Linked DNA regions of Homo sapiens. The protein of the gene in region 2 interacts with the protein of the main gene of each other region in a pairwise test. Each region holds a gene or a part of one and is shown on either strand. Other genes may lie near its edges.

Region 1 (7,196 bases), on a different chromosome or scaffold from region 2:
TTGGTGTTGACAGGTCATTGATTATGACAGCTGTCTACCACCTCCTTGCTCTTCAGTGTAAAATTCCTCCAAACTAGACAAAATGAAAAGGATCTGTGAAGCTGGAGGGGCTTCAGACTTGGCTAACAATCTTACACAAAAAGAGAGTAACATGCCTCACCCCTGCCAACTGCCTGAAACATGAGGCAGTATTTTTCTCAGCTCCACTAAAGAGGCTTGCACCCAATTCGTGGTTGGCCACTTCATTCTGTGTGAGGGGATAATATCTGTAAGCTGCTAACAATCCCCAGGTGCAGCTCAGATACAGAACAAAGCCAAGAGGACTGGCCACCCTCCACCCCCCCGCCCTGAAATGAGGGCCTGGTACCACCCAAGTAACACCTTAACAAGCTAGGGGTCATTAAGAGACTTCATTTGCATAGTCATCAAAGAACCAAAGCTATGGCAAGTGAAACAAAGTGTATAAAAAAAATGATTTTGTTCTTTAAGCCAAGCCAAAATCTGCTTTAGAAAAAGTAAATCCACATAGGAACCCTTGCTGTCGCCAAACCTCCACTTGTGTAGAGCAGCCAGCATCTCATTAAAGGAAAGCAAGGAACTCGCAAATGAATGCAGCACCACACACAGGCAAGCAAGCTCATTTCGCCATCTGCCTTCTAGTGTCCAGAGGGGCAAAAGGCTTAAATGACACTCTCTTGAATCTTCTCTCCTGCAGGTGGAAATGCTAAATTCCCAGGGGGCAAGAAAGACTGCTTGCAAGGTCAACTGGGTAAAAAGGAATAGAAGCAAATCTAGTTTACCTGTCAACACAATGCCACCCATGGCATTAAACACATGCAAAAATTAAGCACCCTAGAATAATTTACTTTTTTATATTTGGATAAAAGCTTTGCTGATTCAGTGTATCAGCTTTGGAGTTAAGCACAGAAGTTCCTCATGAGCCAGGCACTTAAATTTACCCTCCCTACATTATCCCATTTCCTGACCCATGACTACCCTAACTGGTGGTGACCCAGTACCTTCTTCTAGTAAATGACCTACGCAAGTGACATCAGAACTGATCTGGGGGCTGTATTAACACAATGGCAGACTTCCATTATTTATGCCACAGAGAAAGGCTATGATTAACTAAACAACTTAAGTAACTGCGCTCAGCCTTCTGTGTGTGGCCCCACCTTCCTGACAATCACTGTGTTGGCTTTTGGCTTTGTAAGCATTTTAGGCTTCCCTGTGGAAGCTCACTCCTACCAGGTTTTATATATATATATATATATATATTTAATTCATCTATTCATCTACATAGTTGAACGGCTGAATCTCTCAATAGTTTTTCAACCTCATACGCAACGTAAGACACACTTGAAGAGTGCGGCGCAAAAGGTAAAAACCAGCCTAGAGTTTTAACATGTTTCATCTAACTTCCCAACGCGTGAACAACTACCAGCGGACACAGACACGTTCAGTCTGTATTACCCCGTCCTTGGGCAGTGAGGAAGAAGAAAACCTAGAAGGAAGAAGGTATCCCAGGATAGAAGCAGCAACAGCCGGCTGAAACCCAATTAGATTGCAGGAGAAAGAGAAAAGCCCTGTCTTAGTCTGTGGCCAAAAGACCTTTCCCAATCAAATTTTTCAACACCTGGAAAATTGGCTTATCTATTTGTAGAGAGCACCCAGAGACGAGCGTTAGAGCAGCGCTACCCTGGAGTACCAGTTCTTCGGAATGTTGACCGCCGGCCACGCACCGCTTGACAGCCACGGATCCGCTGGCGGAGCCGCAAGTTACAACCCAGGCGCCTGGCAAACTCACACTACACCTCAGTAGCAATAATCCCAACGGCAGGACACCTGGGGAGGGTGGGCTCGGTCTCCCGGGCCTGGCTCAATTATGTTCCTTTACACAGCATTCAATCATGTTTCAGGAGCCGTAGGTGAGGGGCTGGAGGTGGGAGTGGGGGACACATTTTCTAGCCCCCGACGTCTCCGCGGTTGGAAACTCTGGGCACCTCTTTCGGCCAGCGCTAAGACAATACACAAAGAGCAGGGAACCGGCGCTCCTCTGCGGCCAGAGCTCCGCGCCTAGTCACGGAAGAGCTGGGAATTAAGAATTCCGAGCTCAGCGAGAGCCCTGAAGAAGCACCGGAAATGCTTCCGATCGCTTCATAAGAGAAGTCAATTTGCAAATCAAAGTTGCAGGAACTCCGGACGCCTAGACTACTTCAGCGGGTTACTCGGGAACACCCAACAAGTTTGGCCACCGGGGGCTCGGCATGACAGCGCCGCGCCGCGAGACGACAGAAGCAACTTGTCGCTCGGGCGCCAAGCCAGAGCCCTGAGCCGTCTCCGCTCCCAAGCTCGGGAGAGCACCCAAGAGCCGGCGTCGGGAAAGCGGAGGTCCCTGCCTCCGGCAGCCAAATCCCTCAACTGAAGGCACCTCAGGGGCTCACCTGGACTGCACTCGCTTCCAGGGGCTTCCCCCAACAGTGCAACGCTTCACCGCGAACGCCTCACCTGCCTGCCAGCCCCAGGTGGCGGAGAAATTAACAAAAGAGCAAGCGAACAGGGGGAAAGGGAGACCCGGCGTAAAGTATAGTAAGGAGGGGAGGGCAGGCAGCTCGGCTTTCGGCGGAGAAAGAAGAGAGAGGCGGAACAGAGATGGCTTATACCCAAGGCACCGGCTCGGGAAGGCAACCCAGAAGGGAAGAGGTCGAGAAGCGGCAATGGGTTTTCTACTCCGCTTCCCATCACACACACACACGCACACACACCTCCCCCTTTTTCCTCCTTACCCAGCATGGAAAAGATGAAATCCTTGGCTGTGTGAATCTCCAGCGCTCTCTGGTCGTCGTATTCCCGCTGGTCGTGCTTCGTAAATTCTTGGATGAGTTTGTTCAATTCCTCCACCCGAGCTCCCGACCTGAAATCCAGCTCCGGGAACGCAGGCTTGTTGTTACAGCCCAGGGAGGCTGCCTTGTTGGCGGTGGGAGCCGCCATCTTCATGCAAAACGCGCCGAGTAGCAGCTCCGCGGCAGCGCGGCACCCACCCCCGCCCCCCACCCCGCCCCCCTGGGCCTCCTCCCCTCGCAGGCTCCCAGGCTTTGGCCCCGGCTCGTGGGCGGGTTGGCGGGCGGGCGTCTGGGCGGGCAGTCCCCCGCTCCGTGCGCTCTGGGCGTGCGAGCTTCGGGAGGAGCTGGACTGCAGCGAGGGTGCGTGTGTGGCCCCGACACCCTTTTCTCCGGCCCCACGCCCGCCCCGATGCTGCGCGTCCCTGCCCTGCCCTGGCCCTCTCTGGCAGCGGCAACGGCGGTCGTAGAGCCAACTGGAGCCTCCCCCGGGCGAGGAAAGTGAAGTGGAAACAATGTGAAATTCACCAGCTCTGAAATCAACAAGCTGCCGGCTCCGGTGTTACGGAGCCAGCACCAGCGTCTCCATTTAAAGGGACAGCGCACCCAGTGGAAAGGAAAATAAATAAATGACAGAGGTCTGCACGCATATACCACTTGCCAATCCGTACTTGGGAAGACGCGCGAGGTGTGGATGCATTCTTTCTCCACCTCCACGGCCGTCCCCCCATCCCCTTTCTGGGCAGGGTTTGCCAAGCGCATTCAAGGAGAAGAAAGTCTTCCTCCGTTTGATTTTAAGGGCGGTGTCCTGGGGGAGGACATCTCTGTGCGCGTTTACCTCTCTATCCCAAGAACTCCAATACCTTTAAATAGTAAAGGAAACTGCCTTAAGGAATATGAAACCTGTCTTCTACCCTTTTCCTCTTGGATTGCCAAGATGATAGGATTGAGCGTATAAAAAAAGAGGGTCCACATCTAACCCAGTATTGGCACTCCCACTAACCCCTAGATATCCCTACCTTTGCCCAAGGTAATTAATGACCTGAATAACAGCTTATTTATCTTAACATATAATGAGTTAATGAGATTCAACCTACTCTAATATAAAGATAGGGAAACTGAAGTGTGGGTGTGGGAGAGGGGAAACAATGTATTGCCCCAGGTTCCAAGAAATGTTGGATGACAAGATGAAAATTTTCTCATTCAACAGATAAAATTTGAGTACGCACCATTTGCCAGATGGAGTGACAGAATGTGACAGTGATAACCAAAAGACATGGCTCCTACCATGGAGTTAGGCTTACATGACAAGGCAGGTTCAATCTAAGTCATAGTCCTTTAGGCAGAATAGAGTCTCAGAGGTGGTTTTAGTGTTTATGGGGTGTATCATTCAAACACTTAGGAGGCCCATTGGCTGTGAGAAACATAGGTTATCTTCCTCCCTAATTCTCCAAAATCTCTCTTCTCTATCCCACAGTCCCTGATTTAGATCAGGTCTGTTTCACTTTCTTACCCGAGTTCTCATGGCCAAGAATACAAATTGTTTTGTTAGACATGGAAGGAAGTACGGACTCTTCCATGCCTTCCCCTATAAAATGGGAATAATAATTCCTGTCTCACAGGTTGTTTTAAGGATTACGTGAGATAAAACAGGTCAAGCACTTAGTTCAAGGACTGACATAATAAGTACTTAGCTATTATCAGCTTCTACTATTATTGTTATTAATTCTTTCACTGTTCCTCAATCTAGTAACAACTTGTTGCCAGAGTGATCTTTAGAAAACACAGACCTGACCACTGACCTCCCCCTGGAATTCCTCTCTTCTTTACTCCGTTTACACCAAAACCAATCCGCGTCTGCCTTTTTCTTACAGCTTTCCGGAGACCCTCCCCTCAAGCTGGTGGCAACTTTTCCTTCCTCAGAACCTACTCTCAGAAGCTTTCATATGATGCTAATGAATTTTGACCTTGCTTCATCATTGCTTTTTGTTTTGGGTTGTGTGTGTGTGTGTTTGTTTGTTTCTGAAACAGGGTCTTCCTCTGTAGCCCAGGCCAGAGTGCAGTGGCACAATCGTGGCTCACAGCAACCTCAACCTCCTGGGATTAAACAGTCCTTGCATCTAGATCTCTCAAAGGGATTACAGGCGTGAGCCACCACACCTGACCACTTCATCATTGTTAATGCAAGTTTTAGACTAAAAGATTCTTGGGGATGAGGGCTACATCTTATTCATCTTTGTATTTCCTGCAGCATATGGTCCTACCGAAGGGTCCTCTATGTTTATTGAATCAAGTAATGAGTGAAGAATTGTGGCATAACCAGTTAATTTCTCTTACTTTTCGTTTCCTTCTCTTTGAAACACACTTCCTCACCCACTCAGTATGAAAGAGAGAGGATCCATGCCTAGATAAATGCTGGTGGACTGATGAGGAAGTGACTTAAAAACTCTGGTTTTTAGGCAGGGCGTGGTGGTTCACGCCTCTAATCCCAGTACTTTGGAGGCCGAGGCGGGCAGATTGCCTGAGCTCAGGAGTTCGAGACCAGCCTGGGTAACACGATGAAATCCCATCTCTACTAAACATACAAAAAATTAGCCAGTTGTGGCGGCGTGCACCTGTAGTCCCAGCTACTTGGGAGGCTGAGGCAGGAGAATTGCTTGAACCCAGGAGGCGGAAGTTGCAGTGAGCCGAGATCGCGCCACTGTACTCCACCCTGGGTGACAGAGTGAGACTCCATCTCCAAACAAACAAACAAACAAACAAACAAAGCAAGCTCTGGCTTTCGCAGCTCTGCTATGCTGCCCTGACTTCTCATCCTGAGAGGATATTAACATTACCTGGGCAGTACTAGAAGCCACATAAGTGTTTGGAACTCCAGCACAAAGTGATCCACTCCCATCTGTCAGTGCTTCACTAGTGATCAATGGCAGGCACCTGTGCGACAGCTGGCTGAGGCAGTCATTCCATAGAGCAGAATGGTTCTAGTTACCTCCAAACCATGTACAGTTAAGAAATACTTCAGACAACAAAATCGAAACACTTTTTATTTGTTAATTTCCAAACATATGAATGAGGCATCACTAATCTTCCCTTAATTTTACCTTTTCTTATGATATTTATATCCATAAAGAAACAACAGGTTGTTAGCAGAAAGTATTCCTGTTGTGCCGTAGTGCTGGACCCTGGGGGTTTGAATGAGTGAGTGGTCTCTCTGATGTTCCTCATTGTCTGTTCTCCTTCCCGTCAGCCAGATCAGATTTCTATGAATCATGGACCCTCAGTGAGCCCGCATATCCAGATAATGTAATTGGATGGTAAACTAACACCTTCCTAGGCTCTAATAGAACGCTGATAAGATTGTGTCAATATCCCTTGTTGAATTAGAAGAATAGAGAAAAACGATCAAAAACCATAATTTCCTGAATTGATCTATTGGGAGACTTTTTAACCTCTGAGCTTCTCAAGGGCAAGTACTGTGTTTCTTCACCTGTGTAAACACTGCATTTAATTTAGTTCTTGACCCATCTTATGACCTTAGTTTATATGTTCAAATGAATATATAAAAGAATGAATGAAGCCGGGCACGATGACTCACACCTGTAATCCCAGCACTTTAGGAGGCCAAGGCGGGCAGATCACAAGGTCAGGAGTTCAAGACCAGCCTGGCCAACATAGTGAAACCCCATCTCTACTAAAAATTCAAAAATTAGCTAGGCATGGTGGCATGCACCTGTAGTCCCAGCTAGTTGAGAGGCTGAGGCAGGAGAATCGCTTGAACCCGGGAGGTGGAAGTTATGGTGAGCCGAGGTTGCACCACTGCACTCCAGCCTGGGCAACAGAGGGAGACTCCTTCTCAGAAAAAATAATAATAAAAAAGAATGAACTAATACCATCCCTCAAAGTCCAAGAAGTCAGAATTTAGGTGATTTTTGCTACAATTTAAATATCTCAATGTAAGCTATCTATGGTTTCCCAGTATTTAGTTAAGTGTTGTTATAAATGTAAGTATTTCTGCATGCATTTAATTAAATGCCCCAATTTTTATGCCTTTTTCTCCCTGTGTATGTTATATGACCTAAGAGAAGGAAGAGAGATAGAGAGGAAGGTGGAGAGAGAGAGAAAATCATTATTAGAAGATGTTAAAGAGTGTCTGAGGCTTGAATAAAAATGCATATCTCTAGAATTTTGACAGATGGACAAAGGTCAGTGGAGTCTACCATCTAAACAAGCACTAAGGTAGGCTTTTCCTTTGCTGGCTCTTGCAGCATCAAACAGAACAGAGTAACAGCCTGCATTTCCAAACTGCTGTCACACTTAGAGGTAGAACTTGCCCTTCTACTCCCAACTCCCAAATTT
Region 2 (7,022 bases):
TGTAGTCCTAGCTACTCTGGAGGCTGAGGCAGGAGTATCTCCTGAACCCGGGAGGCAGAGGTTGCAGTGAGCTGAGATCGCGCCACTGCACTCCAGCCTGGGCGACAGAGTGAGACACTGCCTCAAAAAAAAAAAAGAAAGAAAGAAAGAAAGAAAGAAATGGAACTTTCCTGGCCTTCTCCTGGGTACTTGGTGTCTAGGATGATGCGCAGAGCCTGTCCCAGCTCTCTAGATTCGTCTAGTTGGGGGCCCCTGAGGCTCAGGCAGGCACACCACCCCCACCCCCCGGCGGCCATGTCTGCAGCATTGCCCATCTGTGTGTCACCAGGGAAAGGAACACAGGTCTGGAAGAAGAAAGGAGCCATCTATGAGGGGGACTGGAAGTTTGGGAAGCGAGACGGCTACGGCACCCTCAGCCTTCCTGACCAACAGACAGGAAAGTGCAGGAGAGTCTACTCAGGCTGGTGGAAAGGTGATAAGAAATCGGTGAGCAGGCCTGCCAGCCGGGGTGTGTGTGTGTGTGTGTGTGTGTGTGTGTGCGCGCGTGTGTGTTTAGGGGAAGCCGAGAGAGGCCTGGGAGAAAAGAGAGGGGAGGTCTACAGGGAGGAGGACAGGGTTGTGCTGCTCGTGGGAGAAGGAAGGGGTGGGGGAATTGCAAAGTTTCTCAGAACAAAACCCAGGAAACAGGAAGCAACAGAAGGCCAGGGAGGAGCCCACGAAACCCTGCGGTTGCGAGGAGCCAGCCAGGCTTGTGGGGACGAAGTCGCCTCCACCCTTTTCCCCCTCGTTTCCTGGCTTTCTTTTCCCCAGGTATCACTTTCTGAGAATCCCCTTTCTGCTGGGCCTGAATAAAAGGGAGGTAGGAAAAGTGGGAGCAAGAGAGCAGGGGACAGGAGAGGAGGGTCCCGGGGGGCCGAAGCCAGCCAGAGGCGCGTGCTCAGCCCGGAAACACCCAAGCTGGGCACAGGTTCCCTCCATCTACTCCCACAAGTGTGGAGGAATCCTCACCATCAGTCCCAGAGACACTAATAATAAACAGTATTGCAACTGAGCAACTGCTACTGTGAGCCTGAAACACATATTTAAAACTTTTTTTTTTTTTTTTTTTTTTGAGAGGGAGTCTCATCCTGCCGCCCAGGCTGGAGTGCAGTGGCGCCATCTTGGCTCACTGCGAGCTCCGCCTCCCGGGTTCACGCCATTCTCCTGCCTCAGCTTCCCAGGTTGCTGGGACTACAGGCGCCCGCCACCACGCCCGGCTAATTTTTTGTATTTTCAGTAAAGACGGGGTTTCACCGTGTTAGCCAGGATGGTCTCCATCCCCTGACCTCGTGATCCGCCCGCCTCGGCCTTCCAAAGTGCTGGGATTACAGGCGTGAGCCACCGCGCCCGGCCTGAAACACATTTAATATTCAGTTAACTCTCACAGCAACAGCTCATCATCATCATCATCTTCATGCCCATTTTATTGATAAGCAAACAAGCTCGAAGAGATGAGGTGTCTTGTAACTGCCCAAGGGGTTCACCTTGCCGGTGCCTGGCCTTGAGTTGTATTATTACTCAAATCAGTCTCCCCGAACATTCCAGCAGCAGAGTTTTTAAGGATAACTTGGTGGGTGGGGGAAAGACAGTGAACCAGGAGTGCTGATTGGTCAGAGATAAAATCATAGGGAGTCAAAGCTGTCTTCTTGCTCCCCAGACAGAGCCGATTCATCAAGACGGGAATTGCAATAGAGAAAGAGTAATTAACACAGAACTGGCTGTGTGGGAGACCTGAGTTTTATTATTATTATTATTAATTTATTTATTTTTTGAGATGGAGTTTCGCTCTTGTCGCCACGCTGGAGTGCAATGGTGTGATCTCGGCTCACCGCAACCTCCGCCTCCTGGGTTCAAGCGATTCTCCTGCCTCAGTCTCCCGAGTAGCTGGGATTACAGGCATGTGGTACCACACACTGCTAATTTTGTATTTTTAGTAGAGACAGAGTTTCTCCATATTGGCCAGGCTGGTCTCGAACTCCCGACCTCAGGTGATCCGCCAGCCTGGGCCTCCCAAAGTGCTAAGATTACGGGCATGAGCCACCGCGCCTGGCCCTGGGTTGTATTATTACTCAAATCAGTCTCCCGGAACATTCTGGCTGCAGAGTTTTTAAGGATAACTTGGTGGGTGGGGGAAAGAGTAAGCCAGGCGTGCTGATTGGTCAGAGATAAAATCACAGGGAGTCAAAGCTGTCTTCTTGCCCTGAGTCAGTTCCTAGGTGGGGAGCCACAAGATCACATAAATCAGTTTATTGATTTGGGTAGTGCCAGCTGATCCATCAAGTGCAAGGTCTGCAAAATATCTTAAGCATTGATCTTAGGAGCAGTTTAGTGAGGATCAGAATCTTGTAGCTTCCAGCTGCATGACTCCTAAACCATAATTTATAATCTTGTAGCTAATGTTAATCCTACAAAGGCAATCTAGTCCCCAGGCAAGAAGGAGGTCTTCGGGAAAGGGCTGTTACTGTCTTTGTTTAAACTATAAACTATAAGTTTCTCCCAAAGTTAGTTCAGCTTAAGCCCAGGAATGGACATGGACAGCTTAGAGGTTAGAAGCAAGATGGAGTCAGTTAAATTAAATCTCTTTCACTGTCTCAGTCATAATTTTGCAAAGGCAGTTTCAGTCTTGCCTGGAGTCACACAGCTAGCAAGTGGTAGAGCCCAGGGTTTCATGTTCTCTGCTCCCAAATTGTTTATTGGCAAGTAGGAAGAGAAAGCCCTGAATAACCAATTTACGTAGAATATGGTATTAGGAGGGATGTTTTCACAGGGTGCCCAGAGGAAGGTCATCAAGCCCAGCCTAGAGAATTCAGGACAGAAGGCTAAGCACAATGGCTCACGCCTGTAATCCCAGCAATTTGGGAGGCAGACAGGGGTGTATCACTTGAGGTCAGGAGTTCGAGACTAGCCTGGCCAACATGGTGAAACCCCCGTCTCTACTAAATAAAAAACACAAAAAAAATTAGCCGGGCATAGTGGTGTGTACCTGTAGTCCCAGCTAGGGAGACGGAGACATTAGAATCGCTTGAAGCCAGGAGGCAGAGGTGGCAGTGAACCGAGATCACGCCACTGCACTTCAGCCTGGGCAACAGAGTGAGACTCCATCTCAAAATAAATAAATAAATAAATAAAACTATATAATAATAATAATTAGCTAGATGTTGTGGTGCACATCTGTAGTCCCAACTTTTCAAAAGGCTGAGGCAGGAGGATTGCTTGATCTCAGGAGGCTGAGGTTATAGTGAGCTATGGTGGTGCCACTACACTCCAGCCTGGACAACAGAGCAAGACTTGTCTCAAAAAGAGGGAATTCAGGGCAGGCTTCCTGTAGGAGGTGACACTAAAAGATGCTAGGAGTTAGCCAGGAAGAAAAAAAAGGGAGAAAGATGGGAGGCAAAAAAATAGCAAAGGGAACGAGATGTAAAACAGCAGAGTGTGTCTGCCCTGGGACAGGAGTGAGGAGAAGAGTTGCGGGGGCCCTCAGGGATATGTGGGAAATCAGGATTTTGAGGAGTAGACTTGGCTTCTCAACCCAACCTCCTCGGGTGTGATCTGCAAACAGACCTTGTTTCCCTGTGGTTGGACACTAAGTGTGGTGTTTTTTGTTTTTTGAGACGGAGTCTTTCTCTGTTGCCCAGGCTGGAGTACAGTGGCGCGATCTTGGCTCACTGCAAGCTCCGCCTCCTGGTTCACGGCCTTCTCCTGCCTCAGCCTCCCGAGTAGCTGGGACTACGGGCACCCACCACCACACCCAGCTAATTTTTTTGTATTTTTAGTAGAGACGGGTTTTCACCATGTTAGCCAGGATGGTCTCGATCTCCTGACCTTGTGATCCGCCTGCCTTGGCCTCCCAAAGTGCTGGGATTACAAGCGTGAGCCACAGCGCCCAGCCTAAGTGTGGTGTTTTTTGTTTGTTTGTTTGTTTGTTTTTTGAGACAGTCTTGCTCTGTTGCCCAGGTGGGAGTGCAATGGCACGATCTGGGCTCACTGCAACCTCCGACTCCTGGGTTCAAGCAATTCTTCTGCCTCAGCCTCCCAAGTAGCTAGTATTACAGGTGCCCACCACCACACTCAGCTAATTTTTTATATTTTTAATAGAGACAGGGTTTTGCCACGTTGGTCAGGCTGGTCTAAAACTCCTGACCTCAGGTGATCCATCTGCCTCGGCCTCCCAAAGTGCTGGGATTATAGGCGTAAGCCACCACGCCAGGCTAAGTATGGTGTTTATGTTCATTTTTCTGGGTCAAAATAAGAGTGGGAGGGGGGCGAGCATGATCAGATGGGCGATTTTTTTTTTTTTTGAGATAGCGTCTCACCCTGTCACCTAGGCTACCGTGCATTCTCAGCTCACTGCAACCTCCATCTCCCAGGTTCAAGTGATTCTCCTGCCTCAGCCTCCCCAGTAACTGGGATCACAGGCGCCGCCATCACGCCCAGCTAATTTTTTGTATTTTTGGTAGAGATGGGGTTTCACCATGTTGGCCAGGCTGGTCTCAAACTCCTGACCTCAAGTGATCCACCCACCTCAGCCTCCTAAAGTGAGCCGGTGAGCCACAGCGCCCAGCCTAGATGGGCGATTTAAAGAGTCCTCCGGCGCTGTAGGGGCTGCATGGCGCATGGTGTGGTGGGGATGAGAGAGGAGAGGGTGGGTCAGTAAGGAGGGAGTTTAATGACTGGCTGCATGGAGGCGCCAGCAGAGGGACAGAGAGAAACAGAGCATGGGGAGATCCTTCAAGACATTATCGGTGGGCACTATGGCTCACACCTGTAATCCCAGCACTTTGGGAGGCTGAGGCGGGCGGATCACTTGAAGTCAGGAGTTCAAGACCAGCCTGGCCAACATGGTGAAACCCTGTCTCTCCTAAAAATACAAAAATTAGCAGGGCGTGGTGATGCGTGTTTGTAATCCCAGCTTCTCGGGAGGCTGAGGCAGGAGAATCACTTGAACCCGGGGGACGGAGGTTACAGTGAGCCGAGATCACATCACTGCACTCCAGCCTGGGTGACAGAGTGGATCTCTGTCTAAAAACAAACAAACAAACAAAAAAGACAGGATACTCCGCTAAGACACGACCCTCCGCTTGGACGTAGGGCTGAGGAAGAAGGAAGAAGCTGGGGTGTGTGGCTCTAGGGGTGCCTGGGAAGACGGTGGGCTTTCCTGGTGGTGTTGGGGGGCGCCCTGAGTAGTAGCATCTTCGTACTTTCAGGGTTATGGGATCCAGTTTTTCGGACCCAAGGAGTATTATGAGGGTGACTGGTGTGGCAGCCAGCGCAGCGGGTGGGGCCGCATGTATTACAGCAACGGCGACATCTACGAGGGACAGTGGGAGAACGACAAGCCCAACGGGGAGGGCATGCTGCGCCTGAGTGAGTGCCCCACCCCCGCCGGCCCCGCCCACCCGACCACGCCCCCGGCAGCGAGCTGGCCACGCCCATTTGGTCCCACAGAGACAGGCCACACCCCACACTCTTGTCCCACACTGACCCTTGTGTCAATGTGGGACAAGAGAGGAAGAGCACCCTATCTCTCCCCTCAGTCACAAAAGGTCACATATATATGATGCTATTTATATGAAATTTTTAGGACACGCACCTCCACAGAGACAGAAAGTAGACTAATGGTTGCCTAGGACTATGGGGGTGGTGACATTAGTGGGTGTGGGGAATGGCTGCTTAATGGGCACAGGGTTTCCTTTTCGGGTGATTAAAACGTTTTGAAACTAGATAGAGGTAATGGTTGCACAGCATTGTGAATGTACTAAATGCCACTGAACTATACACTTCAAAATGGCCAACTTATGTTATATGAACTTATATCTCAATTTTTAAAAAAAAAGCCAGGCGCAGTGGCTCATGCCTGTAATCCCAGCACTTTGGGAGGCAGAGGCGGGCGGATCATGAGGTCAGGAGTTTGAGATCAGCCTGGCCAACGTGGAGAAACCCTGTCTCTACTAAAAATACAAAAAGTAGCTGCATGTGGTGGTATACACCTGTAATCCCAGCTACTCAGGAGGCTGAGGCAGGAGAATCACTTGAACTCGGGAGGCGGAGGTTGTCACTCAGGCTGGAGTGCTGTGGGGCAATCTCAGCTCACTGCAGCCTCAACTTCTTGAGCTCAAGCCATCCTCCCACCTCAGCCTCCAGAGTAGCTGGGACTATAGGTGCACACCACTATGCCCAGCTAATTAAAAAAATTTTTTTTTTTGCAGAGATGTGGTCTCACTATGTTGCTCAGGCTGGTCTTGATCTCCTGGGCTTATGAGCCTCCCATCTTGGCCTCCCAATGTGTTAGGATTTGCACTGAGCTCTGGAAGAGCGACCCCTGGGGGTCTAGCTTAGTTTGGTGTACCCTGCACCACACCTCCCTGTCCTTTCCCCCAGAGAACGGGAACCGCTACGAGGGCTGCTGGGAGAGAGGCATGAAGAACGGGGCGGGGCGTTTCTTCCATCTGGACCACGGCCAGCTGTTTGAAGGCTTCTGGGTGGACAATATGGCCAAATGCGGGACGATGATCGACTTTGGCCGTGACGAGGCCCCTGAGCCCACTCAGTTCCCCATTCCTGAGGTGGGCAGCCCTCACCAGGGCCCTGTGGCCACACCCAGACAGAGACAGAAGCCAGCATCCCCAGCCATGCCCAGGCCAGATCTGCCAGGCCCAGCCAAGCCCAGACAGGGAACAGACAAGGTTTTGTTTTCAGTCAGGGCATCCCTAGCAAGGGAGGTGGCTCCTGATGAGGCTGGCAGCACCCCACACGGCAGGCAGCGCCAGTCAAGGCTGGCAGCCTGGGTCCTCCATGCTCTCCAAACCAACTTCTTGGTATTTCCCTCCAGGTCAAAATCCTAGACCCTGATGGTGTGCTGGCGGAGGCCTTGGCCATGTTCAGGAAGACAGAGGAAGGAGATTGATGCCAGGTGAGGGGTGGGCACACCTGCCAAGTTCTGATGTGGCTGAGGCTGCTCCAGGGCCCAGAACAATGCACAGATC

What was found. Proteins that work in one complex are often made in the same cells at the same time.
Region 1: the proteins of MORN3 (region 2) and MB21D2 interact in binary tests that used the Homo sapiens proteins (3 or more experiments, as listed by UniProt).

Annotation. Positions count from the first base shown.
Region 1 is NC_000003.12:192,914,844-192,922,039, forward strand, and holds the start of MB21D2 (nucleotidyltransferase MB21D2), read right to left. Parts: upstream 3,014-7,196; 5' UTR 2,998-3,013; coding exon 2,787-2,997; intron 1-2,786. UniProt on the Homo sapiens protein: Probable nucleotidyltransferase that catalyzes the formation of cyclic dinucleotide second messenger in response to some unknown stimulus.
Region 2 is NC_000012.12:121,652,655-121,659,676, reverse strand, and holds part of MORN3 (MORN repeat-containing protein 3), read left to right. Parts: intron 1-328; coding exon 329-486; intron 487-5,243; coding exon 5,244-5,403; intron 5,404-6,417; coding exon 6,418-6,602; intron 6,603-6,868; coding exon 6,869-6,943; 3' UTR 6,944-6,949; intron 6,950-7,022. UniProt on the Homo sapiens protein: Assembles a suppression complex (suppresome) by tethering SIRT1 and MDM2 to regulate composite modifications of p53/TP53.